Linked DNA regions of Homo sapiens: region 2 is linked to region 1. The links come from fine-mapping of genetic effects on gene expression. A gene starts in region 1. The other region holds a variant in brackets. All regions are shown on one strand. Distances are between the middles of the regions. Region 1 holds the start of LINC02325 (long intergenic non-protein coding RNA 2325). Region 2 overlaps LINC02325 (long intergenic non-protein coding RNA 2325).

Region 1 (16,351 bases):
CTTTCATTCTTTAATTCATAGTACCCCCTCCTTTTTTCCCTTTTTTCTCCTTTTGTTCTTTTTTGCCTTTGTTAGCTGCCCAGGCATGCCACAGAACCAGGCGTTATCAGTACCAGCTCACATTCCTTTCCTTATCTGGAAAGAGGACTAACTTTCTAGCTCATTACACACACGGCTTCCCCTTTCCTCTCCACTTTCTTTTACTTGCCCATCTTATCTAAAAAAAAAAAAAAAAAAAAAAAAAAAATCAAATGTTTAGCCAACCAGGATTAGTTTAGATTGTACAACATGACCCAAGCCAATGGGAAAAGGATACAGGGGCAGGACTGGTGTCAAGAATAAAAGCACTCGTGCCCCTTTGTTCAGGTGTGCTCTCATGGTGACTGGCCAAGGGGGCACCCTTCTGTGCAGAAGTAAAATTGCTTTGCTAAGAATCCTTTGTTCGAGTGTTTAACTTCCTTAGGATTTTGAGCATTATTCCTAACAGGAGTAAAACTATGTACAGTTAACTCTTGAACAACGTGGGGATTAGGGGTACTGACCCTCTCTATAGCTGAAAATCCATGTGTAATTATGACTGCTCAAAAACTTTACTAAAAACCCCCTATTGACCAGAAGCCTTACTGATAGCATAAATAATTGATTAACACATATTTTGTATGTTACATATATTATATACTGCATTCTTACAATAAAATAAACTAGAGAAAAGAAAATCAGAAGAAAGAGAAAATATGCTTACTATTTATTAACTGGGAGTGGAGCATCATAAAGGTCTTCATCCTCATCGTCTTGAGAATGAAGATACATGTTGAGTAGATGAGGAGGTGGAAGAAAAGAAGGGGCTGGTCTTGCTCTCTCAGGGCTGGCAGAGGTAGAAGAAAGCCCATATATAAGTGAACCCTCAAAGTTCAAACTCATGTTGTTCAAGGGTCAACTGTACTTAGAAATCTGGGCAGTGTTGGTTAATTGAGATAAAGCCATGGTACAGGATAGAATCATGAAAAGATTGAGAAAGATAATTAATTCCAATCACAAAGGTCTTGGTAGTAAGACCATACCAAAGATGTCAATCAACTGAAGCCAAGTGGCCACTTTGACCCAAGGAAATCCAATCCAGAGGCTGAACAGAGACATATATTGTGGCCTAACAAGAACAGATGAACTGGACAAGACACAGTCTTCATCTCTGGAGTCTAAACTGGAAAAAGATGATGGTGATGGTGACAGCTGAAGCTGAAAGTCCATGGTGTAGTGAGACCTTTGAGGCTGTCCACCGAAGGCCTTCTGCAAACAGAAGCTATGAGGAAGCAGAAACCATGACTGAGTGAAAGACATGGAGGGAGAAGAAGACACAGAGTGGAGGGAGGAGATGAGAAGGCACAGAACAGTGAGTGGAACAGATGGAACCATCAACAGAGGGGCCACTCCCTCCACCAGAAGTTCTGCTTTGCATCTTTAGTCCAGGAGTTGGCGAATTTCTTCCACCAAGGGCCAGAGAGTAAACACTTTAGGCTATGCAGCCTTATGGTCTCTGTTGCAAGTACTCACTTCTGCTACTGTAAAGCACTAAAGCAGCCATAGACAATGAACGCTTCTGAAACTAATGAGCACGCATCTAAAAACTGGAAGATGCCACAAAAATACAATTCATTTTGTCTCAGAAAACTGGAATATGAGGCTTCCAGGGCTGTTTTCTAACACAGTGGCAATGACCAAGGGTTGGAGCGGGCCTGATCATGTACCTGCTCACCAACATTGCCCACCCAGCTCACATGGGCAGCTGAGTTTGGGAACTTGCAAGCATCAGGTACTGTAACCACCACTTTAGAACCATTACCTCTAATCCTTCACCAACTTATAAAGTTAGTGTCAGCATGACTATTTCACGTAAGAGGAAACTGAGGCTATGGAGTTAAGGTGACATTTCCAAGATCACACTGTTGATAAGTTGCTGAACAAAGGTAAAACTGCTGGAAACAAAAGTAATTTTTTAGAAGGTTCTGGGAGAATTGTTCTCTTCCCTCCTCTTTCCAGTCCTCTTCCTTCTGATCTGGACTCCAATGTCTCTCTTTTTGCCGAATCTCTTTAATTTCTTCAGGAAATAACTCCCAATGTGAAAGAAGAATACACATTGCCTTTTCTCTCTCTCTCTCTAAATGTAATTTTCTTGTCTTAGACGCAACAAATTCCTTTAAGAGTGGAGATAGTGCCGTAGGTTTCCTTTATTCCCCCAGACAGCTTATCATAGCCAGAGCAAATAATAGATCCTAAATAGAATCAATCATGGTGGTGGTGTGGGGAGGGGGTTTTTTAGCTTTAGCATCTGACTTGAACTTATTACTAATAAGATACAATTAGATCCCGGGAACTAACTCCTCAAGCAAGAGATCTGAGATGAGAACCAACAGGAGAACCTAGGAAAACAGATTCACGCTATAGCCAAAGGACCCACACAAAAATCCATGCAATCTCTGCATAGTGGGAAGGATGGAGGAGTTGGAAGACTTGAGTTCAATGCCCAGATCTGCTGGAACACACTCCTGCTACTTGCAGTGTGGACGGAGTCCCAGCAGCCCGAGAAACACCCAGGAACTGGTTAGAATTGATCATTCTGGGCCCCACCCTAGAAGAACAGAATGAGAATTCTTAGAGGTAGGCCCAGGAATTGGTATTTAATGATCAATTGGGGTGATTCTTAAACACATTGAAGTTTGAAAATCACCGACTGCATGTTGCTATCTCTGGGGGAGCTTTGAACAGCAGTATTGCATGGGTTGGTGTTGCCAGATTTAGCAAATAAAAATATAGGTTGACCCAGTTACATTTGATTTTCAGATAAACAACAAATAATCTTTTACTGTAAGTATGACCCACATTCTGTATTACTCCGTATTTTTTATTGCATCCCAAGCCCTTTTCTACCCTCAGGGATTCTCATTTCATTGGTCTGAGTGAGGCCTGGGCTTTGGGATGTTGAAAGTTGGTGTGCAGCCAACATTGAGAATGGTGACCTGAGACAAGCCCCCACCCTGCCCCATTCCCTCCTGAAGGCTTCCCTGCCTCACTGTTTCACCTAGATTCTAGCTCTGGGGTTGGGGAATGGGGTGGCAGTGGAGGAAGTCAATTTTCCTAGGGTGCAGCAGGTTGTGGATATTGAAAATAGGCTGGAACCATCAAATAGGAAATCCACTATGAAGATATGTCATGATTTCCTTTATTCCACAGCTGAGTACAAATTGCCACTATTTTCTTCAGGAGAGGCAACAAAACCCTATCACCCAAATACCTAAGAAATCAAAGGTTCTCAATAGCAAGTTACATGGGCCCTTGGGTGGGAGGTGGGGAGTGTTTGGAGGAAGGACGTGGACAATCACACATAACACTGTGATTTGAAATTTACTTGAGCACTTAGGCTAATGAATCAAGTGAACTTAATCACCCCAGAAATCCAGACTCTCTTGATATGTTCTCCATCTCTTGGAGGCTGAGACTCTTATTCCCAATATCTCAGGCTTCTAGAGGAAAGTGGAGCAAGGCATGGGTGGGAGAAGCTCAGTAAACAAAAGGGCATTTCCCCCATGGCAGAATCAGCTGCTTTACACAAGGTCTAGTCTCATGGTTTCTCCAACGGCCAGGACTTGTTGCAAGCTGAAGGTTCTCCTCCCTGGGACAGGAACTTGGCCAAACATGTTGCTCCATTCAGCGATATGAAAGAAGTCATTCTCTCTTTGGGGAGAAAATTTTCTCCATTTACCCAATGATCTGTACCTTACAGGACTGTAGAATAAAATTCCAGCCTGGAGCAATCACAAGATTTCAATCATTGTATTCAGAAGTACTAATGGTATGCAGGGACTTTTTAATACAGGGATCTATTTTTTACCTTGGATCAACCTGAAAATTCATCTTCTACTTTTTAATTCTTTTTGTCCTATTTTTTCTAACCCTTCTGCTTAAATCCTTCTACATATATAAATATACTTATGTTGCCGTCCCTTTCAAAGTATTCTATTAGTTCTATTTCTTGAGATGCCCATTCTTCAGCTTGCTGTGTCTAACTCCCTATTCAGTATCTTCTTTCCTAGTGCAATTTCATGATTTTCTATTGAGTTTGTCTTCCAAAGAGCTTTGGTTTAGTTTTGCTCTGTCTTTAAACCTATCAGAATTCCATGTGGCCCAAGTTTGTGAATGTGTTACTAAAAATAAAATTTTGCATTTCTTTCTGCAGGGACGCTAGACCTGTGTCTAGTGTTTTTGACTTCAATTCTTACATCACAAGGGCAATGTAAACTTGGACCCTCCCTGCGTGCATTGTATGAGCTTGTAACTGATTTCTCATGAGAGGCATTTTTTTCCTACCCAGAAACCAAGCCACAAGAAAGCTTTCTCGCTGCTTCTCTTAGTCTATCAGGTCTTTTAAATGTGCATGTCTCATGCTGGGGATTCAGTTCTGGTTCCCACCATATACAGATTCAAAGCCGCATCTCCTGTCTTTCTGTAGGCAAGAAATTTCAGACCCAAAGGCCTATAATCAATAGCTCTGAAGGACAGTATGGTATCAGCAAACTGAACTTTCATTTCGAGTACCTAAGCATTCCCTTTCTTTGAGTTTATGTGTTCATTTTAAAATTTATACTTCTCCAGTATTTTTGTGTATTTGTATGAAGAAGGTGATGCTTATTGGTTCAGTCTGCCATGTTGTTAAAACCAGAAGCCTGAAAGTTACTCTTGCAACCAAAGAGCCAGAGACAGTGAATTCTTTCCAGTCCACTCAAGAATTGTTGGCAGCAAAACAAAGGATATGGATAAAGAGTCTAGGTATAGATCAATACAATGTAAAGAGCTGTGGTTGTGATTTTGCAGAGATGTTCAAAAGCTACTCAGACAAAGTAAAGCATGAAGCAGACAATTCCAACAGGGTCCTGGCATTTTGTAATTATAATCAATTATACATGATAATTGATCAATAGCTATTTCTGCTTAACAAACTATCTCAAAACTTTTGGCTTAAAACAGCAATCATACCTTATGATTTTGTGGTCAGGAATTTGGATAAGGCTCAGCTGGGTGGTTCTTCTGTCCCACATGATGCCGACAAGGGTTGCTGAATGGTGTTCTGCTGGTGAAGGGCTGGACTGAAGAATCTAAGAATGCTTTACTCATATGCCTGATACACTATCTGGTTGGGTCAGCTGGGATTGTTGACCAGAGCAATAACATGTGGCTTCTCTTGCATGGTGTGAAGATTCACACTTCATACGTGGCTCAGGCCTTTAACAGAAAGTTTCAAAAGACAGGAAATGGACACTGCCAGATGTTAAGTTCTCATCATCTCTTCTGCCCTATTCTTTTCATTGAAGTAGTCACAGAACCCATAGGAGGGGTCTTTTGGCAGGAGATGTACCTAAGAATTTGGGGCCATCTTTCACCTGCCGTGGTAAGGCAGAGTGCATGGGCTCTGAAGCCAGGCAGAAGCATGGAAAATGTTAAGCCTTTCTAAGCTCCTTCTTACTTGCTGACTCCAAGATAGTTTCTGAGCTTTTGTTTTCCTCATCTGAAAAAGGGAAATATTAATATGGAATCAGATTGAAATGTTTCAGCTACATTAAATAAAATAATGGTAACCTAAAAGTGAACGTCATGAATTTGAACAGAGAGAATTGGAAGAAGACAATCTTTTTTACAGATATTTGAAGAGGAAAGTGCTTAAATTCTGACTTAAAGATTGAGGACATTTTGCTCTTAGGAATAAGGAACTTGCTGCAAGAAAAAAATGCTTATCCAGTGATAGACTAATGTACAGTATATTAAAAATAAAACAAAAGTGCTACTGTGAAGAGAACCAGCAGATCATGGATGAAAAAGGAAGAAACATCTGGAACATCTGGGTTGAACCACCACAGGGATGATCCCCTTAAATGGTAACTTTTAGTGAAATGGTATTAAAAGTGAATGTCAGTCTCCCATTGCATTTTATTTAGACTTTGAAATATATCGGCCGGGCACAGTGGCTCGTGCCTATAATCCCAGCACTTTGAAAGGCCAAAGTGGGTGGATCACCTGAGGTCAGGAGTTCAATACTAGCCTGGCCAACATGGTGAAACCCCATCGCTACTAAAAATACAAAAATTAGCTGAGCATGGTGGCAGGTCCCTATAATCCCAGCTACTCGGGAGGCTGAGGCAGGAGAATTGCTTGAACCCGTGAGGCAGAGGTTACAGTGAGGAGAAATCATGCCACTGAATTCCAGCCTGTGTGACAAGAGCAAAACTTTGTAAAAAAACCAAACAAACAAACAAACAAAAAACCATATATATATATATATATATATATATATATATATATATAATTACACTTAAACTAAGTGTACAATAAATTATAAATAGAGCCCATCCCAGGATTTCAGTTACCAGCGCCTGATTGCTTTATGATGCTCAGTACAGCACATATTGATGAAGCCCTTCCGACATCACCTGCTGCAATGTGAGCTTTCTGTACATTTTAACACTGGCCATGCTGCTGTAGGGAGGGTTATCATTCAGCCTCGGAGATGCTAAGGGTCACACATCCAACTGTGTAGGCTTTATTTGGACCCAGGACAGATTCTCACCCATGGGCATCCTGTTCACACTTCACCAGGCTGGGCTAATTCTACCCATCTTCTCTCTGCCCTGAAGGACTTATCACATAGTTACACCTATGAGAATTTTCAGCAATCTCAGAATTACTTCCTCTGGAAGTATTTGCAAAAATGGGATAATGGTAGAGGCACTAAAACTGTTCCTACACTATAAAGCCAGCAACTCTCCTGCTTATAAAATGCAGCTGGGGTAGGAATGGTAAGAATAAGATAAAGTGTAAGGTCTTTCACCTCCAAGGCACTTGGACATTATATCTTTAGACTCTTTGTTATATTGACTGCATTACTCCCAAATGCTTTTTAGAGGAGGGGGGACATTTAGAAAAGTGAATTTCTTATGATCAAATCAATATGTTGTGGTTTATGACAATTTTATACATTTATGGCTAAGAACCTATCTGCAATCACTTCCTAGACAAAAGTTAATCATCTTAGAATTTAAAAAAACATAGTTTATTTTTTACACAATTTCTGGGATTGGATTTCCCAACATGCAGCCCAAACACCTGCTCAGAGCACAGGTAAAACAGAAGTCTCACCTCAAAGTCAGCAATTTTTAGAAAAACTTGACATACAAAAAACACATAAGAGCTGTTATGTTGGACATTCTTGCTGTAATGGCTATATATATATATGTAATTATTATTATACACATACACACTCACGTTTTTCTTTTGAGTCAGGGTCTCGCCCTGTCATTCAGGCTAGAGTGCAGTGGTGCCATCACTGCTCACTGCAGCCTCAACCTCCTAGGTTCGAGTGATCTTCCCCACCTCAACCTCCAAAGTAGCTGGGGCCACAGGCACATGCCAACATGCCTAGCTAATTTTTTTTATTTCTTATTTTTGTAAAGATGGGGTCTTGTCACGTTGCTCATGTGGGTCTCAGACTCCTGGGCTCAAGCGATCCTCCTGTCTCAGCCTCCCAAAGTGCTGAAAACTACAGGCGTGAACCACTAAACCTGGCCTGTTATATATTAATTTTAATTTAAAATACCCATGAAAAGGGGAGTAGGTTATTTTCAGTACTTAAGGTCCGAATATCGTGGGCTGCTGGGCTGGGGCTCACGACCCATCCGCAAATAACACAGAGGCAGACACAGAGAAAATCAGACATTGAGGCTTTCCTCACCTGCCTCTGTCTCCCTCCATCTCTGCAACTCTGCAATGCCCCAAGCAGGAGTCTGCTTTTTTGTATAATGGGCAACCCAATCTTGGCAGGAAACCAAAAGTCAATTTCCAGGAAAGGCAGAAAAGAGGGCTATAAAAACTAGAGGACCTCTGTGGCCTTGTGGTCACCTCTCCTCTCTTGCAAAGACACAGCTGTCACCAGAACCCCACGTCTCCACCAGCACAATGCCTCTCAAGATGCTGTAAGCGCCTAGGGAAAGCCAGCCTGCTAAAGGACGCACATGTGCGCACACACACAAACTTCAGGATGGCCATCAATTCAGTTCCTCCTTTACCAAACACTGTGACATGCCTTTCCCCTCTTCTCTCTCTCTCTCTAACCAGCCTTTCTCCCCCACCTCTCCCCCTTCACAACGCCCAGTTTTATTAGTATTATTATTCTCTTAAGTGGCACATGTAGTACCACTTCCTGCTCCATGAGGCCCCGCCGAAAGCGACGGAAGCGCGCCCTCCTCGCCGTGACATCTGTCTTGGCGGCAGCCTCCTCAGGCGGTTCTCTTGGCAGCCTCCACGCTGCCACCAGGCCTGTCGGGTGGCTGTACGGCTGACGGGCTGTCACCGCCGCCTCCTCTTGCGGGCTGCCATTTTCTTTTGATTTACCTTTGATTCGGAGGCATTTGCATGCTTTCATCACTTGGTGGACAAAGTCCTCGGCAAGTCTCCCATGGCTGCTTTCTGTGTAGGCAGCCAGGAAAGGGGCGGATCCCTCTGTGACTTTGCTTTGAGGTGTAAATGGAGGCCCGGCTGGCCTATGTCACGGGGAGCCCGGAAGCGGGTGTAGACTGTCACTTCCCAGCTCCCCGGGAGACGCTATGTAGTTGCTCCTCGCTTTGGCTAGGGAGCTGCTTCGCCAGTGACAAGTGTCCCCCGTGTCAATTAGTTTATTAATCACCCAGCTAGACAACTTGGTAATGTGGTAATTTCAGGGTTAGGCTGCACCGAGTTCTTCCTTTTCTGGCTGGGCATAAGAGCTCGTTAAAGGACTTCCCCTGCTCTCCAGAAAACTCTTTCTCTGCCTTTGTGCATATCCCAGTGAAGCCATTCAAAACTGCAACTCCTCTTCCCCGGCGTGCGGACAGGAGGGAGGACAGGGTTAAATTGCTAATCGAGGTTTCGTGAGGTCTGCCAGAGCCGAGTCTCCAACACTTACATCTGTTCAACAATTATTACAGCATTTTTGTCATAAAAAATTCAACACCCTGAGTGTCGTGCTAGCAAAACCTGAAAATTTATGCAGTGAATAGAATAGCTAATTTCTCTGAGGAAATGCAGGAGGAAAATTACAGATTTTACTTAAATTCCAAACACCAGAGTGCACACATCTGACGCCCTCTTTGGATTTTTTGTCAACCACCGGACCGAAGACGCCTTCCCGTCCACCAGGAAGCGGGGAAGACCCTGGACACATGCTCTGACCTTGGAAGAAGCCGTACTGTGAAACTCCAGACTGATCTATGCACCCACCCAGAGTGTCTCTAAAAGACCTCTCTCCCAATTAAATCCATGCGTGGTACAGAGTCAGACTTCGATTCCGGAGCGAGGTTAGCGTGATTGGTTTGCGTTTTTCCCACTCCCTTCTTCCAATTTGCCCCCCACGCCTTTAAAACAGCTCCTTGGAGAAAACAGAGGGGATGGAGAAGAGCCCCGACAGCATCGAGAGTCTTAAATCTCCTTAATTCATTCTAATGCTGTTTGATGCTTGCAACGGCAGCATTGGAGTTTGCCTCTCTGCTCCATAAAGGTCTGGAATATGGATTTTATGCTAAAACTAAAGCTGTCTAGTTAGGATGCCAGCAGAGTGGAACAATATGCTACAGGCGATCCTCAACTATTCTCCAGGGCCGGAGCCTGACTTCCCGACTGGGTGTTTGTTACCTTAATCATCATTGCAGCGGGATGAACAGGAATTTCTTGCACTGCCACCACAGTGGCACAATTAACGTTATCCGAATTTTCAGAGATTCTACTGCAGAGAGAGGATACTTGCTCCCCTCTGTTAGTGACTGCTCCAGGGTCCCTGTTTATTTTCCCTAGAATGAGGTGGTCAAAGGAACCAGCTGCCCTCTGCCCACTTACTCTGTCTCATGACAGCTCAGCATGGTAAATATTTTCTCTGTAGGGTCTCACATCTCCTGACCATCTCACCTCAGGGCTGGGGAGCACAGCCACACGCCAAGAGCAGAATCCATCACTGGCATTTATGTCTTAATAAAAGCGTGTGCCATTTTCAGATAAAGTAAACACTGCAGCCATTTCCTCTTGCCAGTAGAGGTTTTTCTCTCTTTCCTTCTGAGTCATACCCTTCTAGAAGGTGCAATGTGCCTTCAGAAGAACCCAAGGAGGCTGTGATTCAGAGGTTCCAGAAACAGACACAGCTCTCCAGGCCCTGTGAGTGGCAGTGACAGAATGAGGAGTCCTCCACCCCCTGCAGCCCAGCTATGCCTCAGGCACAGAGCACCCACCAGAAGGAGGATCAGCTCCACCTGGCTCCCAGGCAAACCACGTCCCCAGGCACTGGTGTCACGGCCCAGGTGCTGCCTCTGGCTCTGTCCCACATGGAGGCCTCCCAGTGGGTCACATCCCAGCACAGTCCTCCTGCCTGATATCACCCCCAATCTGTCCTGGGGCTGGAGAGCTCTGAGGAGGGGACCTATGAGTGCAGTGTTTGCCGGCCAGGGCAGAGCCTAAGTGACCCCATGTGAATCCTACTGTGACCCTGCATGGAGACAATCAGAAAAATAACACAGACACGAGCCACAACCACACTGCTGTCAGAACGTCCCAGGCTCTCGTCCCAAGCACTTTGTCTGGCTTAATTTTCAGAACCGCCCTGTAAAGTACATATTATCATTCCCTTTTTCTTGCTGATGAGTCCAGAGTTCAAAAAGATTAAACAAATTCGCCAAGACTGCCCAGCAAGTAACCAGTAGGGCCAAGATCAGATGTCAGACAGGTCAGATGCAGAGCCCCTGCCCTCTCCACCGTGCCACCCTGCCCTTGAGGCAGCTTTCCATTTGAGAAGTAAGTTTAGCACGAGATGCACGACAAAACTGGTAACAGGGCAGACCTGAGGAATGAGGTATGTCTGCATGTGGGGGGGACCATGCCTGTGCAGCCTGCTCTGCAGAGGAGAAAGGTGGAGACAAACCAGAAGGAATGGGGACTTAGCTTGACTTGAGAGAATTAGGCTTTGAGAGGCATCACTTCCAAGAAACGGTTCTATTGCCCTCTTCCTCCTCCATAGCTGTGGTTTTCTAACCATGTATCCCATAGAAGAGAAGTTTGAGGTCCATCATGGTGGAAATGGTGCTGCAAAGCTCCCTACAACTGCAGCATTGATCTTCTCTGATTTATGTTACATGACAGATCTTGATGTCCAGGCCGCAGGAACATCCACCCCAGCGAGATCCCTTTTCTCGACTTCCACCAGCTGTTTGCCAGGAAAGAAGGTCTCAGAGCCACGCTGTATCCTGACTGCCTCTACAGCAGGTACCTTGTACCTCCACAGCAACACAAAAGGATTGTTTCTGTTTCCACACATACCTCATGTCATTTGTTGCCACATAAATTCTCCCTAAGCATAGTGGCTGAATGAAAGCAACTAGTATGTATTGCCCCACAGCTTCATAGGTCAGGAATATTTGGGCACAGCTTAACTGAGTCTTCTGTTTCAGGGTCTCCCGCAGAAGGTAGCCAAGGTGTTATCAAGGGCTGCAGGCATCTAAGGCTTAACTGGGAACAGAATCTGCTTCTGAGCACACTCACGTGGTTGCTGGCAGGAATCAGCTCCACAAGGACTGCTGGACTAAAGGTCTCAGTTCTTCACCAGCTGGGAATCATCCCCATTTGCTTGTCCTATGGCCCTCTCCATAGGGCAGGTCCCAACAGGACAGGAGGATTCATCCTTGTAAGCAAGCAAGGAAACAACAGGAGACAGGTTGCACTCAGGACAGAAGTCATATCTTTTATAAACTAATCTCAGAAATGATATCCCTTCCCTTTTCACATATCCTGTTAACTAGAAGTGGGTCACTAGGTCCAGCCCACGTTCAAGAGAGGTGCTCACACAAGGATGTGAATACCAGGAGGCAGAGATCTTGGAAATCACCTTACAAGTTGTCTACCTCACACCTCAACCCTACCCTTTAGAGTGGACAGTTTTCACAATGCCGTGGCCTCATCTATCACTGGGAGGCCTAGAAAGAACTCTTTCAATTCTCTTGTGCCAGGAACCAATTTTTTTTTCTCACCTTATGGGTGGTTTCTAAAGACACCAAAATACCTGCTCCTCTTTCTCTACAAAGTCTCTGCCATTACAATGACCAAGAAAATGTGCTGTAGCGTCATAGCCCTTTACTAAGCCCCTGCTACAGATCAGACACTGAACTAGACCTTGAAATATTTTCTCTCAATCCCTAAAGCAGGCCTAAGTGGCAGCATTTATTGAATGAATGAGGACTCGGAGGCTCAGTGAGGGTAAGGAACGTGCCCAGTGCCATTCATCCACATATGTAGTGGAGTCTGAATTCAACCACAGGCTATGTTTTGTCCATTCAGCCACAGACTCCCAAAAATATTCCTGAAGCTTCATTTCAGAGGAATTACACATTCATTCTAGGTCTCATTACATTCAAAGAAATTCTCACACATGCTACTTATATGGCAACCTAAGGTTTAGCGTAACCACATGCTCTGGATTTTTTAAGTGAATTATGCCATTTTATTCATTCAATAAAACAATTCTAGAAACACACAGATAAATATGAATTGCTTACGTTTATTTGAACCATATGGCATTACCATTGCTAGTGGTAAAAATATCAAATACCACTAACTCTATAGGGTTTAGTCTAATGTATTTTTGCTCATATTAATGCTTACAGATGGACAAATGAGTCTTTCATATTATAAATAATCTTTGTCTACACAACAAACTTCTATAGACTTAAAAAAAAAAAGAAACAAAAGTTTCCTCTCTCTGTAGATACCAGCATATGGCAAAAGGATCAATACTGACAATATTTAATGAGCATCTCTGCTTGGACCTTTACTATTATATTGTATTAAATATTTACAACAGCACGAGTGTAGACACTGTGATCCCAACTTTTATACTGAAGATGAATCAAGTTTAAAGAGGTGGATGATTTCCTCAAAGTCATGCAGTGAACTGACAGAATCAGCCTCATAACCTGCTAAATGTGCTTGATTCCAAAGCACATGTTCTTTCCATTCAATTTTTGTCTTACCAAGAATCACATACTGGGAATTTGCTGGAGGCCATGGAGTTCTGCCTGAGTTAGCTTGCCCCTCTGTGCTGTTGAAACACACATAAACACCGAAATACCAAAGCAATTATGGCCACTGGAAACAAAGCCATCTCAAAGATAAAGTGCCCGCTCTCTATTTTAGAGGTGACCAAGAAAAGATTGTCAGTGACTCATGGGTGAATTCTGAAGAAAAACAACTTGACTAGCAGAAGAAGACAGGAGAAAATTTCCAGCTATGCAATCTGCAGATCCCTTTAGCACCTTGGTGGCTGAACCACTGATTATAAGTCCTGGTGATAATGTCTACCCTTTTGAGTACCTTTATTTATTTATTTATTTATTTATTTTGGAGACAGGTTCTCACTCTGTCACCCAGGCTTGAGTTGAGTGGCACCATCTTGGCTCACTGCAACCTCCACCTATCAGGCTCAAGTGATCCTCCCACCTTCCCACCTCAGCCTCCCAAGTAGCTGGGACTACAGGCAGGTGCCACTATGCACAGATAATTTTTGTATTTTTTGTAGAGGTAGGGTTTTGCCACATTGCCCGGGATGGTCTCAAACTCCTGTGCTCAAGGGATCCGCCCCCCTCAGTCTCCTAAAGTGCTGGGATTACAGGCATGAGCCACTGCACCGGGCCTTGGGTACTTTTGTAACCTGCAGAACTACCCCCAGTTTCACGTCTGCTCGTTGATACCTTCCTCTTCTGCAGCCATTTAGAAGGCTAAAACTCCTCATTGCCAAATAATGAAGAGGAGTAAGAATCAAAGCTAAGAGGACTCTGCATACTAAGACATAAGGAAAGCACAAACTCAAGAAAACTCCAAGACAAGCACTGGGAGCAATGAATTTGACAGCATGTAATTCAAATAAGAAGAGTCATAGATTTCTCAAATAATCCCAGGGCAAAATTTTATCCAGGAAAACTGAATTGAGGCCAGAGTCTGACAGGATCATTTACCTGCATTATACCTGAAATTTGTCAACACACTTTACATTTCAATGTGGCCTCTGGATTAAAATCCAAGAAGATTATTTTGAAAATAGTAAAAATAATAGTGAGGAGAAACTCAATCCTTATTTAAATAATAATAAACATAAATAAAAGCAAACCATGCCCAAAGCAAGTATAAAAATGGGAACCAGCATTGTAAACACATAGATGAAGAGCATACCAGAGAAAGGGATTTGTTGTCAAAAACGGAAAACATTTTATGAGGTATTTGCTTTGTGTTCTTTCTAAAATATAATAAAATACATAAAAAAAGAGGCATAATAAGAAATAAACTATTTTTAACGTAGCAGGTTCAAATGAAGCCTGAAATTTAGGAAGGGATCTGAAAGAAATTATGAAAGAATCAATAATAGCTCATACTTACCGGGAGCTAACACAGTCTCAGACATTGTTCTATGCAGTTTACATCTATTAGCTCAGTCAAATCTTCAAACACGTCTCCACATTGGCTTTTTGATAAGGAGACTGGGACACACAGAGCAGTTAAATATCTTGGCCAACTCAAAAAAACTACTAAATGGAACAGGTGAGATTTAAGCTCAAGCAGCCTAAGCCTGCACACTCAATCTTCACATGGTACTGGTCTAGAGAACCAAAGAACAGAATCTATACAGCAGAAAATTAAATCAGTAAATAGAAAGCAAACAAGAAGGCTTCCAGGTATTTAGAGCAAAATCAGAAAACTACAGTCTATAAGCTTAATCTGTCCCACCACTGGTTTTTGTAAATAAAGTTTTATTGGAACACAGCTATACTCATTTGTTTATGTGTTGCTTTTGTATTTCAAAGGCTGAGCTGAGTAATTGCACCAGAGACTTATGCCCCAGAAAGCTGAAAATATTTTTTATTTAACCTTTCACAGAAAATGTTTCCTGATGCTTAATTTAGAGAAAGAAGACACAGAGATACAACTTATGTGAGAGAAGATGAAGATATGGAAGACACAGTAAAGAGGCAGTGTGTGAAGAGAGCTGACATTTCAGAGGACATGACCAGGGCCAACAGAGTAACTGGTTAATCAAATATATCGAGAAGAATTCAGAGCTGAAAATATCTGAGTTCGTTCCTCAGAAGGGCTCAAATTATTCCAAACAACCATTTTCTAAAGAAACTCCTGTCTGAAAAGAATTTTGAATCTCTGGGGAAAAACTATTTTTAAAAATTGTGAGAATGGCAGTAGGATGAACAGATTATTTACAAAAGAAAAAAATGTGGGTAATCTCAGACTTCAAAATTGTTCATATCAAGAGTAAAGTGAAATACAGTCTAACGAGTTTTGAGAAGAAAATTACTCAATAATTTTACACCAAAGGGATGATTTGTAAAGGAAAAAGAAAGACACTCAGCTATGCAAAAATAAAAAAAAGTATACTACCACTATACTCATGTTAAAAAATGGGATTGCAGATATACTTGAAATGACTCAGTAATTAATCAAAATAAACAATTCAAGAAGAGAGAAAGCATGGTTCAGGACAAATAGTAATAAGTGTAGATCACAACTACTAAATACTAAACATAAGAATTAAGTCCAAATCGGTTCAGTAAGTACAGTAAGAAAAACTACAATTGAAAAATTAAAATATCACATTAAAAAAATATATAGCTTACAAACAAACCATCTCAAGAAGAGCAAAATAAATCTAATGACAAGGGAAACTAAAAAATAAATGCAGTTAAATCATATATAAATTAATTATAGACTGAGAAAATAGTGTTAATAAATAAATGTAAGAGCTGGTATTTAGAAATGTACAACACAACAAATAAACCACTATTAAATCCAAATTAATAATGTCACAAATAAATATGCATATTGGATGTGGGAAATTAGATACAATATAAGTTTATAAATTAGAAATACAGATGTGCAGTCCTACATAAAGACATATGTAAAGAAAATCTAATGAGATAGATAGTTTTCTATTTACTGTTTAATTTTTTGTTGCATAGATTCTGTTCTTTGGTTCCAGAATTGGAAAATTCCGGAAAGTTGAAATAATAAAAATTTGTCCAAGAAGAATTAGAAAACTTTTGTAAACCTATAGCCATGGGGAAAATATGGAAAAAAATCTTTAACATAATTATATCCCCAAAAGACTCCTAGGCCAAGTAATTTTGCTAGTTCTATATAACTTCGAATAATAGACAATTATTATTACTTATGATTTAATCCAGAGCACACATAATAATGTAAAAATCTTTCATTCATATTATAAAGACACTTTACACCC
Region 2 (16,351 bases), 50 kb before region 1:
GGGTTGGGGAAGGAGGGTGCATCAAGTGAGGAATGACTTAATGAAATGCTGAGCTTCTTCAGAATCAGAGGCAAATGTGTCTGTATCATGGCCAAAATGATATAAAACATTTAATATCATCTCTGAGCACATCACAAGTGCTCTGAATAGGATCCCAGAATTTCGCAGCTCCCTCTCCGGAAACTCAGGAGTCTGGGGCTCAGGGAAGCCTACATAGCGGCAGAGTTGGCATCTCTGCGATTCCTCCCCTTTGGGAAGAAGAAAGCTGTCGCTTCTGTCACCTGGACTATGGAAGGAGGAAGCTGCAGTGGCAGCTTTGCTTCCTGAATCCCATCCCACCTGAATCTTGGAGAAGGAATTCCAATAGTTGTGTCAATACAGAAATTCTGCTTCCAAATCCTGGGGTTCTTACCTGCAAATGACTTTCATAGCAAAGGCAAGAGAGATCAGTTTACGCACCATTTCCCCAGTGAATGCAGATCACCTGATATTTTCCAAGAGAAATGTAATTATCTCAGTATTTCCAAGAGGTGGAGAGAAATAGTACCCAGTTTTTCAGCCTCCTGGATGTGGGACATTTCTGGGGAGTAAGAATAGCAGTGGGGGAAATGGCTTACATCTGCCCAATTCTTACTATGTGAAGGCCAAGTTCTGAGATCTCTGCTGATGTTAACCCATTTAGTTCTTTCAAACCTCATCAGCAGTGGGCAGTGCATTGCCCCTGTTCCAAAGATGAGGAGAGTGAGCCAGAAGAAGCCACAGCTACTATGGGGCTTGATGACTGTAGAAGTCAGCCATTGGGTGTAGGAACTGAGGAGGGGGAGGGTTGTGGGAAATTCAGGAAGACAAAGGAAGGAGCTGGCATTCGACTGTGCAAGAGGTTCTTGAACTTCAGTGGACAACAGAATTACCAAAGGAGTTTGCATATTCATTTCCTCCACAAGACTTGGAATAAAGTCATGCCTATCACAAGTATTCTAGTTAAATATCCTTTGGGATAGCCCTAGAATGGAACATTAAAATGGGGCAGCTCTGTTCTTACAGATAGCGATGCTCTCGATGACAGATGGATCCGTACCAAAGGCATGATGGAGAGCAGTGTGACCCTGTGCTGCCACTAGCTTGAAATATCCACTCGGTGAAAGGCTGAACAGTGATAGGACACTTCTGGAAGGATACACAAGAAACCGTGAGTTTCTCTGTATCAAAGAAACTGGTGGCTGGGAGATGTGAGGGGGAGCCAGTCACATTTTACTGTTCATCCCATTTTCATGTGTTTTGAAGTTTGTACCAGGTATGTGTATTGTTTTATCAAACAATCACTCAAGCAACTGTGCGTGTGTGTGTGTGTGTGTGTGTGTGTGTGTGTGTGTGTGTGTGTGTGTAATGCCAGCACCAGACCCCATCCACAAATCCTGAATCTGAGAGTATGGGGCTGAAAGGGCAGTGACAGGAGTGAGAAGGGGCTTGGGCCAGGTGCTGTGAGGAGATGGCTGCTCCTCGGGGCTAAAGTGGATCCCCTGGGCGCCATGGTTCATCCCTGTAATTCTGGCACTTTGGGAGGCTGAGGCAGGTGTATCACTTGAGGTCACTTGAGGTCAGGAGTTTGAGACCAGCCTGGCCAATGTGGTAAAACCCCATCTCCACCAAAAAAATACAAAAATTAGCTGGGCGTGGTGGCAGGCACTTGTAGTCCCAGCTACTTGGGAGGCTGAGGCACGATAATTGCTTGAACCCAGGAGGTGGAGGTTGCAGTGAGCTGAGATCGCACCACTGAACTCCAGCCTGGGTGACAGAGTGAGTCCCTGTCCCAAAAAATAATAATAATAACAATAATAAAATTAAAGTGGATCCCCTGAACATTTTCCTGTGGAGGCCTTGAGGCCTGGTGTGGCTGTATGTGCAGTAAGGAAGTAATTAAGATTAAACGAGGTTGTGAGGGTGGAGCCCTGGTCCCACAGGATTAGTGTCCTTATAAGAGGAGACATCAGAGATGGAGGGTGGTCTCTCTCTTTCACCTGTATGAGAACACAGCAAGAAGACTGAAACCCAGGAAGTGGCCCTCACCAGAAACCAACTAGGCCAGCCCCTCGACCTTAGAGTTCCAGCCCAGAATGATGAAAAATAAATGCTTTCCTCAGTCCCTAGTCTGTGGTACTTTTGTTGTGGCAGCTGGAGCTGACTAATACAAGGGCTAAGGGAGGAGGCCGGAGCCCATTCCAGGGAGGTGCAGCCCACCTAAGACATTTGGGTAGTGCATGAAAGGCCTGAAGGGACGCGTGGGAGAGACAGAGGAGAGCAGAGCAGGGACTTCAGATGGAGGGCAGCCTCCTCTCCAGGAGAGCCCGCCTGCCCACTGAAAGTTCCAGTGCCCACTGGATCAGGAAGAATCATTCTGCACATCTCAGCAGCCAGTTCAGGCCTGCATGACTAGAGGCCACTGGCGTGCACTCCTTCTTCCTGAAGCCCTCCTGGCAGGCCTGCCCCTCCATCCTGGGAGTGGATTACTCCCTTGAGGGCACTCTGCAGCAGCTTCGCCTGCTGGTGTGGACATCTACCCAGGCTGGGAGGGCCCTTCCAATGTCTCCTCCCAAAGGCCATGCCCACTGCTCCCTCTGTGAGGTCTGTCAGTGGATGTGGTCAATTCTCCTAACTATCTGTCCAAGCCTTGGTGAACGTTGATCACAGTCTCCCAAGTGGATGCTCTGTCTCACCACAAGACTGTGAGCCCCTCAAGGGCAGCAAATGAATTTAATTTGTCTCTGAATTATTGGCCCTTAGTATAGTTTCTGTCACAGAGGAATGGACATAAGTATTTGTTGAGTTAACAAGTAAATGAAGGAAGGAAGGAAAGGAGGAAGGAAGGAAGGAAGGAGGGAAGGAGGGAGGGAGGGAGGGAGGAAGGAATGAAGGAGGGCAGGCAGGCAAGAGGGAGGAAGGAAGAGGTGGAAGGAGAAACAAAGGAAAAAAGGAAGGAAGGAGGGAGAGAGGGAGGAAGGGAAGGAAGGAAGGGAGGGAGGAAGGGAGGAAGGAAAAAAGGAAGGAGGGAAGGAAGGAAAAAAGGAAGGAAGGAAGGAAGGAAGGAAGGAAGGAGATGATAGATTAAACCAGGCTATTGACCCTCTAAAAATACTCTCTTATAGCATAAGGGAGCAAGAAATCAAATGAAAATATTCCCCGGGGCTTGGAGTCCCAATATTAAATCACAAGTCAAGGAGATTTATGCTGCCTTTTTGTCCATGTGTGTTTTCGTGGTATAAAGCCTGAAAATGGGTTTACTTCACGGTATCCACTCAGAATTCCCCACTTACTGGAATTAAATATTTCAAACAGAAATACGAGATAGTTAAACGTGACTTAAGAAGATGTAGGAGGCAGAGTTGTGGATTAGTCTTGGCTGTGTGACCTTGAACTTGTCACTTGGTCTTTCTGAGTTGACTTCACCATCTGTAGAATAAGGGGAATGGCTCTTGCTGTATTCACAGCGCTGTTTGATGTGAATGTGTTTCACAAATGCCAAAGGGCTCTGTAAATGTGACAGCATTTTTATTTCTCTATTTGGCATTAATAAATAGTAAACACATGAAGGAGACTGTAAGACATTTCCCTCACTATATCCCCAAAACATAGCAGAGACTCCAGCACAGAGTGGGTCCTTAGTAAGTGCTTGGGGAACAGAACTGGGGGCTCTATGTGTGTCTGAATGTGTAGGCATATTATCCGATAATATAGACCTGGATATAGATACAGATAAATACAGACACACACAGGATTCTCATTGCCATCTCATACTTACAAGGGGGAAGTGCACTTCCCTGGCAAGGTAAGCAGCCTTAGAAGGGTCTAAGCCCCACGATATTATGACATGGGCTGGGAAATAATTCAGACTTTATATTATCTCAAGTAATAGACCTAGTCCTGGTCAAGAGCATCCCTGCCAGTCACTGCCATTGTCTGAACTCACACATACTTTTACCACACCCACAGTGTTTGGCCACACTCGTCTCTAAATTCTAACTTGTGGGAAGGAAGAACTGTCTAAGAACTCAATGTCTCTCAAAGCCCCCATATATCCCTTCCACTTGATTCCCTTCCCAAACTGGAGCATGCATATGAACAAAATTGAATTCTGCCCATTAATTTGAAATCATTCTGTACTGATATAACATTTCAACCCTGCCAAAACAGTTTCTATTTCTGAGTAATTCTTTATTCCAAATTCTTCCAATTGGCATTCTTTTCAAAATGCTGGGCTCCAGTCTCTGTGGAGGACTGCAGACTGCATATGTCCCCAAAACATCTTTGCTTTCTTCAAAACTTCCCCAAGAACTCTTGTGGCACCATCCCTGTTCCATTACTCTCAGCAAGTACCATCTTCTGGATCCTTTCACTTCCAATTTGAGTCTGGTATTTATCATTTTTGTTTGGAATTATTTTCACCACTGGGAGACAAAAAATAACACCTTGTTCCATGCACAGAAAGAAGCCATAAAAAATAAAAGACACATAGAAAAACCCACAATAAAAATATTCCTATTGGTTCTCCTGATCTTCTTCCACCTTTGCTTTTCTCCAAATAAGTGGCTCTCCCTGCCCTCATGAACACTTGTTTTGGGGCAAGTACATTGGGTTAAGTAATATGAAATTTATCAACCAAACCAGGGTACTTTTGGGAGTTAAGTTAGTTATTATTATTAACTACACCAGAATAACAGACATAAAATGAGACTGTTCTGGACACATCAGAAAATATGTTCAAGGCAGGAATAAAATATGCTGTTATTAGGACTTCTTTAGGTGCAAGTAACAGAAACCCAATATGAAGTAGCTTTTAGAAAAAAAAAATGTATAGATTTAGTATGTTATTGGCTCAGCATTAAGGTGGATTCAGTCACATCAATATTCCATGTCACCAAATTCATTTTATCTTGCCATCCTTCTTTCCTTTGTTTCTCACTGCTCAGCGCCTTCTCTCCTATTGGATACAGACTTCCTCCACGTATCAGGGGAGATAACTGCTCCATGTCCCAAAAGGAAAGCCCTCTTTTCCTCTAGGAAAAACCCTGAAATGAACATAGATTGTCCTATCTTGCATCACCTGCTCACCCCTGGAACACATGCCTTCATCAGGGGAGAAGACACCATGATAGAGCAACTCCAATGTATGTTGGTGGAATGAAGAATTTCAAACAAAAATAATTATGCAGTATGGACTTAATAAACTGGATGTAAGGCAATGTTTCTGAATAGTGATGAGGGAGAGGAAAAAAATTACCAATCCACATCCTACAGATTCAGAAGACTATTTATTCTCCTAATTTTCCCACTGTGTAGATGAAGAAACTAATGCCCAGAGAGGTTGAGTATCTTGCCCAAGATCGCACAGATAATCAATGGAGCATCAGGGAATCACATTTGAACCCAAGACTCTCTGAGGTGGGGCATTTAGAGCTTTCTCTTCTTCCCCTGCCTTGCACTGCCCTGATTGTGAGACATAACTCTTTCTTAGTCAAGACTGACTTTGTTTTTAAGCAAGAGAAAAGTAACACAGACTCACTTGGGCAGAAAGGAGGATCAGTGGCTCATAATCCAAATGTAGGGTGTCCATGGGTACAGGCATAATAAGGGTGGGGAGGGCATCAGAATTATCTCTACCTGATTCTCCCCACACATTAACTTCACGGCCTTAGAATATCTGTTTCTATGAGGTTGAAACCATGGCTACCAGCAACTCCTGGGCTCAGATCCTCACTGTTTAGAGATCAGAGTCCTTTCCCTCTCTCCCTTCCTCCTACTTACATGCCCCATGCTCAACTGGGGTTCGGATCGGCCCAGTCTGAGTCATGTGTTCACAAGCAACCAATCAGATGGCCAGGGATGTGAGGAGCTATGATTAGTCCAACTCCAGTCAGGTGCCCACCATTTAGCCAATCACTGTAGCTAGAGCTGCAGGGTCAACGAAGAATCAGGAAGGTTCTATCAGGCCAGTAGGAAAATGGAAGGAACTTAGTGCACACTATAGATTCTTCCCAAAATTAGTCAAACTGGCTCTCAAATAAGAAATTTGGGAAATAAGTGTTTTAGAATCATTTTGTCTGCATACAACCATATCTCCAACATGTTCTTTCTGAATGTGTTTTTGCCCAAATTCTGAATTTTTACTTAAGTGCAGTTAACTCCTCTTCATGTATCTCAAGGCAAGTTGTCTGTTGAGCCAATATTTAAGGATGGTGTCAGCTGTAACCTTGGCTTTTTCCATACGTCCTAAATTTTGCAAGGGCTCCAGGCCCTTTAACTCTGTTGCACAATAGAACTTTGGGTAGCATGTCTAATAAGTGAAAAAAACCTTCTAGAGATAATGGGGCAGTATATTTGAAACTGCAGCTGCAGTGGAAACCCTGGGCTGAGCTTCAAGCAAAATGTGGCAGAATAATATTTCTGAAATATAAACTAAAAATTTTTTTTTTCCTGAAAATTCTTTCCCCAACCCTCTTTGAACAGCCAGACTTTTCTTGTGCTCATTGCCTCAGAGGTAGAGAACATCAAGGCCAGAATATAATATGCTGCTTGTATTTCTCTGGCTTTTGTCTTCCAAAAGCCCAGATCCTTAGGGAAACAGTGAAATAAACAAAAGCATGAAGGGTTGAAGAAGTTACAACTCTCCCTCTTTTGTCTCCTGACCTCAGCCTAAGGGGAGAAGGAAGGAAGGATGATGCGAGGGAGAGATAAAGATGTGGACACTGCTTTTTATTTAGTGCAAACAGTACCTTGACAATGTGATTAAGGTCAGCACCATCCGTGATGCCATGTAGATACCATGTGCCCCATGCTCTGATGGGATAAAAAGGGCACTTAAGTTTTGTTGTCTCCTCTCCAAAAATCCATAGGCCCAGTCTAATCATGAGAAAATCTCACACAAACCATGACTGAGGTGCATTCTACAACATACCTGATGAGTCCTCCTCAAAGTTGTCAAGGTCACGAAAAATAAGGGGACTGAGAGATTGAGGAGACTGAAGGACGTGGTAACAAATGGCAATGGAGTAACGTGGATTGAATTCTGCAACAACAACAAAAAGACATTAAAGAAAAGCTTGATGAAATTCAAGTAAAGTCTAGAGTTTTGGTAATAGTAATTTACCAATGTTAGTGTCTTACTTCTGAAAAATAGACTAGAGAAATGTAACATTAAGGGAAAGTTATACTTGGCAAAGGGTATATGGGAATTCTCCATATTATCTTTGCAACTTTTCTATAAAACTAAAATTATTCCAGAATAAAATGTTTGTTAAAACAATCAAACAAACAAAAACAAGAAAAGGGACTATGCCTCCAACCCCCACCTAGGTTTATGGAATCTGAAAATAGAGACAAGTTGGGCCTGTTTTCTATGTGGAACTCCAGGGAAATGTGGAACTCCAGAGAATAAACGGCTTCGTGGAATATCTAGGCCTTCATTGAGGGCCCTGGTCAGCCTCACCAACTCTCTGCACTCAGCCTGACCACAGAAAGATTCCCCTGAAACTGAGTGGACAAGAGGTAGAACCCATCCATGGAATCAAGTAAGATGCAAGGAGAACATCCAAACCTGAGAAAGAACAGAGGCTGGAAGGAAGAGAGGCTCTCTACATTGACTGAAATTGAATTGCCCAAAAGAGAAATTAGTCTTAGGAGGAAAAAAATATGTATAGCTGTATTCTACCCCCATGTGAGTTTGTAGAGTAAGCTTTGCATTTTCTGTAAAAAGAAGACAGAGGAAGAAGAGGAAGGCAAAAAAAAAAAAAAAAAAAAGATCATTCATTGCACACTTAGTCTATGCTGGGGATAGGTCAGCTCTATGTACATGTATTGGTTTTCTATGGCTGTGTAACAAATGGCCACAAACATAGTGGCTTACAATTCCTATTTATTATCTCACAGCTTCAGTAGGCCAGGGGTCCAGGCACAGTGCAGCTAAGCTCTCCACTCAGGATAGCATATGCTGAAATCAAGATTTCAGTTTTCTGTTGCCATAAATAGTATGTTTATTTGGCATCTATATTAGTCCATTTTCACACAGCTGATAAAGACATACTCAAGACTGGGAAGAAAAAGAAGTTTAATTGGACTTAGAGTTCTGCATGGCTGGAGAGGCCCCAGAATCATAGCAGGAGGTGAAAGGCACTTCTTACATGGTGGCGGCAAGAGAAAATGAGAGAGAAGCAAAAGTGGAAACCCCTGATAAATCCATCAGATCTCATGAGACTTATTCACTATAATGAGAATAGCACAGGAAAAACCAGCCCTCAAGATTCAATTGCTTCCCCCTGGATCCCTCCCACAACACGTGGGAATTCTGAGAGATAAAATTCAAGTTGAGATTTGGGTGGGGACACAGCCAAACCATATCATTCCACCCCCGGCTCCTCCAAATCTCATGTTCTTGCGTTTAAAAACCACTCATGCCTTCCCAAAAATTCCTCAAAGTCTTAACTCATTTCAGCAAAAGTCCACAGTCCAAAGTCTCATCTGAGATAAGGCAAGTCCCTTCTGCCTATGAGCCTGTAAAATCAAAAGCAAGCTAGTTACTTCCTAGATACAATGAGGGTACAGGTATTGGGTAAATATAGCCATTCCAAATGGAAGACATTGGCCAAAACAAAGGGGTTACAGGGCCCATGCAAATCCAAAATTTAGCAGGGCAGTTAAATGTTAAAGTT[C/T]CAAAATGATCTCCTTTATTCCAGGTCTCACGTCTAGGTCATGCTGATGCAAAAGGTGAGTTTCCATGGTCTTGGGCAGCTCCACCCCTGTGGCTTTACGGGGTACAGCATCCCTCCTGGCTGCTTTCACAGGCTTGTGTTGAGTGTCTGCGGTTACTCCAAGTGCATGGTACAAGCTGTCAGTGGATCCACCATTCTGGGGTCTGGAGGATGGTGGCCCTCTTCTCACAGCTCCACTAGGCAGTGCTCCAGTAGGGACTCTGTGTAGGGGCTCTGACTCCACATTTCCCTTTTGCACTACCCTAGCAGAGGTTCTCCATAAGGGCCCCACCTCTGCAGCAAACTTTTGCCTGCGCATATAGGCGTTTCCATGCATCTTCTGAAATCTAGGCAGAGGTTCCAAAACCTCCATTCTTGACTTCTGTGCACACGCAAGCTCAACACCATGTGGAAGCTGCCAAAGCCCGGGGCTTCCACCCTCTGAAGCTACAGACCAAGCTCTACATTGGCCCCTTTCAGCCACAGCTGAAGTGGCTACAACAGGGGACCAAGTCCCTAGGCTGAACATAGGAAGGGGACCCTGGGCCTCACCCACAAAACCACTTTTTCCTCCTGGGCCTCTGGGCCTGTGATGGAAGGGACTGCCATGAAGTTCTCTGACACGGCCTGGAGATATTTTCCCCATTGTCTTGGGGATTAACATTAGGCTCCTTGCTACTTATGCAAATTTCTTCAGCTGGCTTGAATTTCTCCTCAAAAAATGAGTTTTTGTTTTCTACTGCATCGTCAGCCTGCAAATTTTCTGAACTTTTATGCTCTGTTTCCCTTTTAAAACAGAATGCTTTTAATAGCACCCACGTCACCTTTGGAATGCTTTGCTGCTTAGAAATTTCTTCCACCAGATACCCTAAGTTACCTCTCTCAAGTTCAAATCTCTAGGGCAGGGGAAAAATGCTGCCAGTCTCTTTGCTAAAACATGACAAGAGTCACCTTTGCTCCAGTTCTCGACAAGTTCCTCATCTCCATCTGAGACCACCTCAGCCTGGACCTTATTGTTCATATCACTATTAGTATTTTTGTGAAAGCCATTCAACAAGTCTCTAGGAGGTTCTAAACTTTTCCACATTTTCCTGTCTTCTTTTGAGCCCTCCAAACTGTTCCAACCTCTGCCTGCTACCCAGTTCCGAAGTAACTTCCACATTTTTGAGTATCTTTTCAGCAGTGCCCCACTTTACTGGTACCAATTTACTGTATTAGTTCATTTTCAGGCAGTTGATAAAGACATACCTGAGACTAGGAAGAAAAAGAGGTTCCACATGGCTGGGAAGGCCTCAGAATCATGGTGAGAGGTGAAAGGCCCTTCTTACATGGCAGTGGCAAGAGAAAATGAGAGAGAAGCAAAAGTGGAAACCCCTGATGAACCCATTGGATCTCATGAGACTTATTCACTATCACAAGAATAGCACAGGAAAGATCAGCCCTCATCATTCAATTACATCCCCCTGGGTCCCTCCCACAACACATGAAAATTCTGGGAGATACAATTTAAATTGAGATTTGGGTGGGGACACAGTCAAACCGTATCAGCATCCATTAAAATCATAAAATCAAATTAATGGGCAAAGTTACTTACATCTTCCCCGTGATCCAGTTTTTGCAGATGAATGAAAATAGTATTACAACCCTCTCAACATAAACCACAGCATCTGTGTTTTGAGTTCTGCCCAATAGGGGACATTGCCATCTAACAACTATCTACCACTGTCCTAACAGAGGCTGTGGTCTAAGCTTTTGCCTCGCTCCTCCTTCTGCTTCCTGACCAAATCTGGTGCTTCCCCACTTGGCTTGTGGTGTGGCAAGCCTCCTTCTCTTGGGAAATGTAAGTAGTAAATTCTTCTTTCAATGGCATCAGGCTCTCCATGTCATCATTTAATTACCTCCCAAAATCAAAATCCTGTGGGTACATTTTAATACAGTCTGCTGGCCAAAGTCTCAGTTGAGGCTGGATTTTCTCCCAGGTTCACATGGTTATTGGTAGAATTCAGTATCTTGCATCTAAAGGATTGAGGTCCTTGTTTGTTTTCTTGCTTGCTGCCAGCAAAGAACCACTCAGCTCATAGAGGCCACTCCCAGATCCCTGCCAAAAGGCCCCCTTCATGGCCAGTTCACAATGTGACTGTTTTCTTCAAGACCAACAGGAGAGTGTCTGCCGCTGCTTCCTGTCTCTTTCAAGGGCTCCCCTGGTCAGGTCAGCCCCACCCATGATAATATCCCTCTTGATTAATTTAATACAAGTGATGAGGGATATCAGTGTCATCTGTAAAGCTCCTTTTTCCATAAAATGTAATTTAATTGAAAGGAGGAGCTAGCCAGAAAATGTGCACCAGAGGGCTGGGGGCTTGGGGGCCATCGCTGATTTGTTTCCACAATACACCTTATTTCATCCATTCTCAGAGTGGTTCTGTGAGGTAGGTAGCATTTTCCTTCCAGTTACAAACATGTTAGCGAAACAGGGTCATATTGTGCAAAAGTAGTTGTGGTTTTTGCATTGTTGAAATTTGCCATTAGATATTGGAATACACTCTTACATGAATGTAGTTATGCTATACATCATTTTAATGGACATTTCTCACTTCATGTTTTTTCACTAATGACGTATTACTTGCTCCTTATTTTATATTTATTTTAGACTATGGGAATAATGTTAGACAAAAAGCAAATTCAAGTTTTTTTTGTTTTTTTTTTTTTTTGATACTGAGTCTGGCTCTGTCACCCAGGCTGGAGTGCAGTGGTGTGATTTCGGCAACCTCTGCTTCCCGGGTCCAAGTGATTCTCCTACCTCAGCCTCCCGAGTAACTGGGATTACAGGTGTGCACCCCCATGCCCGGCTAATTTTTGTATTTTTAGTAGAGACGAGGTTTCACCATGTTGGCCAGGCTAGTCTCGAACTTCTGGCCTCAAGTGATCTGCCCACCTCAGCCTCCCAAAGTGCTGGGATTACAGGCATGAGCCACTATGCCTGGCCAATTTTCTTATTCAAGTTCAAAATGGATTGTAAAGCATCAGAGACAACTCGCAACATCAACAACACATTTGGCCCAGGAGCTGCTAACGAACTTACACTGCAGTGGTGGTTCAAGAAGTTTTGCAAAGGAGAAGAGAGCCTTGAAGATGAGGAATGTAGCAATCGGCCATCAGAAGTTGACAACCACCAATTGAGAGCAATCATCAAAGCTGATCCTCTTGTTACAACTACGTGAGAAGTGGCCAAATAACTCCACATCGACCATTCTACAGTCGTTTGTAATTTGAAGCAAATTGGAAAGGCAAAAAGCTTGATAAGAGGATGCCTCATAAGCTGAGCAAAAATTTAAAAAGAAAGTCATTGTTTTGAAGTGTCATCTTCTCTTTTTCTATGCAACAACGAACAATTTCTGGATCAGATTGACATATGACAAAAAGTGGATTTTATATGACAACCAGCAATGACCAGCTCAGTGGTTGGACTGAGAAGAAGCTCCAAAGCACTTCTCAAAGCCAAACTTGCACCAAAAACAGGTCATGGTCACTATTTGGTGGTCTGCTGCTGGTCTGATCCACTGCAGTTTTCTGAATCCCAGCAAAACCATTACATCTGAGAAGTATGCTCAGCAAATTGATGAGATGCATCAAAAACTGCAATGCCTGCAGCCAGCTTTGGTCAACAGAAAGGACCCAATTCTTCTCCACGACAACACCCAATGGCACATTGCACAAAGTTTCAAAAGTTGAACAAATTGGGCTACAAAATTTTGCCTCATCTGCCATGTTCACCTGGCCTCCCAGCAACTGACTACCACTACTTCGAATATCTTGAAAACTTTTTGCAGGGAAAACATTTCCACAACCAGCAGGATGCAGAAAATGCTTTCCAAGAGTTCATTGAATCCTGAAGCTCAGATTTTTACCCTACAGGAGTAAACAAACTTATTTCTCATTGGCAAAAATGTGTTGATTGTAAGGTTCTTACTTTGATTAATAAAGATGTATTTGAGCCTAGTTATAATGATTTTTGCACCAACCTAATATTTAAACCTGAGAAAGATTTGTAATTCAATTTTATACATATTATTGGATACCTACTATGTGCCAGACACTATGCTAGACTAATACAAATCCCTTGATCTCCAGGGTTTCATAATCTACTATAACAGGCAGCTATGTCTTAATGATAGTGAATATCAACTAAACAATGTCCACATACCATCTCTTTAAGGGACAAAAGCATGTGAAGTTGGTATTTATTCTTATGAGCTTTCATTTTACATGTGAGTAAACTGAGGCTTAGAGAGTTTAAACAATGTTCTCAGAGTTGCACATGTCATAAATTCTGAAGAGGGAACTTATGCTCAGAGCAGTTCACCTCCATGGTTCATAAGTTTAATAAATATGACATGCTGAATCTCAATACAAAAATTCTTGTCTCATATTCAATAAGAACTGCTAGAACAGAGACTGAGATCAATGGTAAAATGAATTTTTTAAGACAACTAGAGAATACAGAAGAGGTAATGTTTTAGTCCATTTGGGCTACTATAACAAAATATCATAAACTGGGGAGCTTATAAACTACAGAAATTAATTTCTTATGGTTCGGGAGGTTGAGAAGTCCAAGATCAAGGCACCTGCAGATTCAAGGTCTGATGAGACTGCCTTTCCTGAGTTGCAGTGGCCACCTTCTTGCTCTGTCCTCACATGGTGAAAGGGATAAACCAGGTCCCTTGGGCATATTTATAAGGACACAAATTTCGTTCATGAGGGCAGAATCACATTCTATGAGATACATAGCATTTTTTTAATCATACTGACATACGTTTTAGTGAAACAGAGGCCTATATTTAAATCATCTCCATAAAGGTCCCACTTTGGGGTAGAATTGCAACATATAAATTTTGGGGGAACACAAGTATTCAGATCATAGCATTCTGCCCCAGCCCCCCACTCAAATTTATGTCCTTCTCATAGGCAAAATACATTATTCCCTCCCAATGGCCTCAAAATTTTTAACTCATTCCAGTATCAACTGTAAAGCCTAATTCCAGCGTCTCATCTAAATATTATCTAAATTAGATATGGATGAGACTCAAGGTAGAATTTATCCTGAGGCAAATTGCTCTCCAGCTGTGAACCTGTGAAATCAAATAAGTTATGTGCTTCCAAACTCCAATAGTGGAACAGGAATAAGATAGACATTTCCATTCCAAAACAGAGAAACAGGAAAGAAGAAAGGGACTACAGTTTCCACAAAGATTTCAAAACCCAACAGGGCAAACAGCATTAAATCTTAAGCCTCCAGAATAATCTTCTTTGACTCAACGCTCTGCCCTTCAGGCCCGCTGGTCAGAGTTCCCACCTTCCAGGAACATTAAGGCAGGGGTTGGGTCCCCAACACTCCTGGTGGTCCTGCTCCCATGGCTTTAGTGTACCTCACCCCAACAGTTTTGCTGAGTATAGCCCATGCTGCAGTTCTCATGTGTTGAAGTCACATGCTTGTGGCTCCCACAGTCTAGAATCACAGACAAGTAGCTCCACTGGTCTAGAGTCCTGGGACAGCTACACCCCAGATCTCTATTAGGCACTGCCCTGGTGGGGACCCTTTAGTGACTCTGTCTCTGCAATGGTCCTATGCCTGGGTCATGTGCCCCAGGCTCTAGGCAGCTTCATTCTTTAAAATTTAAGTGGAGGTAGCCGTACCCCTGCAGCTCATGCACTCTATACACTGATGAATATGGCAAAACATGGACATTGCCAAGGTTTGCCTCCAAGGTTTACTGCCTGTACCCTCGGGTGAGGCAGCCACAGTGGCCTGTACCACACCTGGGCTGACTGGATCCACACCTGGGTCATCCAAGGAGCACTACACCAAAATGCAGGAAGCAAAGTATTTAGGTGGCCCTGGGAAGCTGATGTCCTGCAGGCATCCTTGGCTCTTCCTCTTAAATCGAATTGCCTCTAAGGCCTTTGCACTTTAGGCTTGTGTTAGTAAAAGCAGCAACAATAATCGACAAAATGCCTTCATGTCATTTTTCCATTTTCTTAATGAATAGCACCTAGCTGATTCATACTAATCTTCTTATCAAATGGTCACCTGGACACATCCTTGGTGTCCTCTCCAGAGCATGCTTTCTTAATTTTACAATGGGGACAGACTGATAATTTTTCAAACCTTTAAGTTGTACTTCTCTTTTGATTAAAAATGTTATTTTTAAGTTGTTTCTACCTTCTCACATCTTAGGATAAGCAGTCAAGAGAAGCCATGTCACACCTTCAACATTTTGCTTAGAAATTTCTTTTGCCAAATTTCCAAATTTATTGTTCACAAATTCTATCTTCCACAAAACACTAAGATGCAAATATAATACAGCCAATTTCTTTGCCACTTTTTCACAAGGATGATTTTCTCTATTGTCCAATAATGTTTTCCTCCTTTTGGTCTGAGACCTAATCAGAACGATCTGTACCATCTATGTTTCTACCACCATTCTGTTAACCACCACTTAGGTATTCTCTAAGAAGCTTGAGGCTTTCTCTAAAGCTCTTCTCTTCTCCTTTTGAGCACTCACCAGGATCATCCTTAATAGTCTGTTCTTAAGAATGTAGGCTTTTTTTAGTAGGCACTTCACAACTCTTTTAATTCCAAAGGCAATTATCTATTTTTAGGTATTGGTTACAGCAGCTTACCCATTTCTCAGTACCAGTTTTTGTCTTACTCTATTTGGCTTTCTTTAACAAAATGCCATAAACAATAGCTTATAAGCAACAAAAATTTATTTCTCACAGCTCTAGGGGCTTGGAAGCCCAAGATCAAGGTGACAACGGATTTGGTGTCTAATGAGGGGCCATTTCCTGGATCATAGATGATGATTTCTCATGAAGCACTCATGTGGTTGAAGGGGCAAGGCAGGTCTCTAGGGGCTCTTTTATAAAGGCACTAATCTTATTTATGAGGGCATTGCTGCATGACATAAAAGGCCCACCTCCTAAAACTATCACCTTGGAGATTAAAGTTTCAACATATAAATTTGGAGGCACACAGACATCCAGATCATAGCAAAGCACATTTCACCAGGATTGGTAACTATCTGATGTAAGAGATGAGATTGAAGCTGGACCTTAGTGAATTAGCAGGACTTCCACAGACAAGGATTCAGAGAGGCAGCAAAGAGAAAAATTTGAAGGGCAATACATGCAGAAACAATGGCTGGAGGGGTTGGTGTTCAGGGGTGAGAGAGGATGTATTCTGTCTCTTAAATCTATGTGTCTCAATTTAGGGACAAGATGGACTGATTCCATTGAGTATCCATCTCAGCCCTAAGGAAAGTTCGAGACCTGGTAGGACATGACACATTCCAAAAGATACAGGGTGCAAAATTAGTGCCTCTTTCTTGAGGAGTTCAGAAACCTTTCCCAGAGGAGTGCTTCTCAATATTTTGCCCTCCAAGGGACATTTTATAAGATATTTCTGGAGACATTTTTGATTATCACAAGTGGGAAGGTGAAGATGGTACTACTGGAATCTAGTGGGTAGAAACTAGGGATGCTGATGAATTTTGCAGATTGAAAGTTTGTGTGCCCCCAAATCCATATGTTAAACCCCTAACCCCTCAATGTGA

What was found. PIP is the estimated chance that this variant, and not a neighbour inherited with it, causes the effect.
Region 2: its variant is fine-mapped to the expression of LINC02325 in whole blood (INTERVAL, PIP above 0.99).

The regions. Positions count from the first base shown.
Region 1 is chr14:97,451,010-97,467,360 of GRCh38, reverse strand. It overlaps LINC02325 (long intergenic non-protein coding RNA 2325), which reads right to left and starts at 8,545. Exons shown (of 5, transcript NR_110166.1): 1 at 8,434-8,545.
Region 2 is chr14:97,500,964-97,517,314 of GRCh38, reverse strand. LINC02325 (long intergenic non-protein coding RNA 2325) reads right to left here. Exons shown (of 5, transcript NR_110166.1): 2 at 6,950-7,060. Among named protein-coding and RNA genes, the nearest start is that of LINC02325, 50 kb to the right of the region's middle. The variant C/T (reference allele first, on the strand shown) is at 8,700.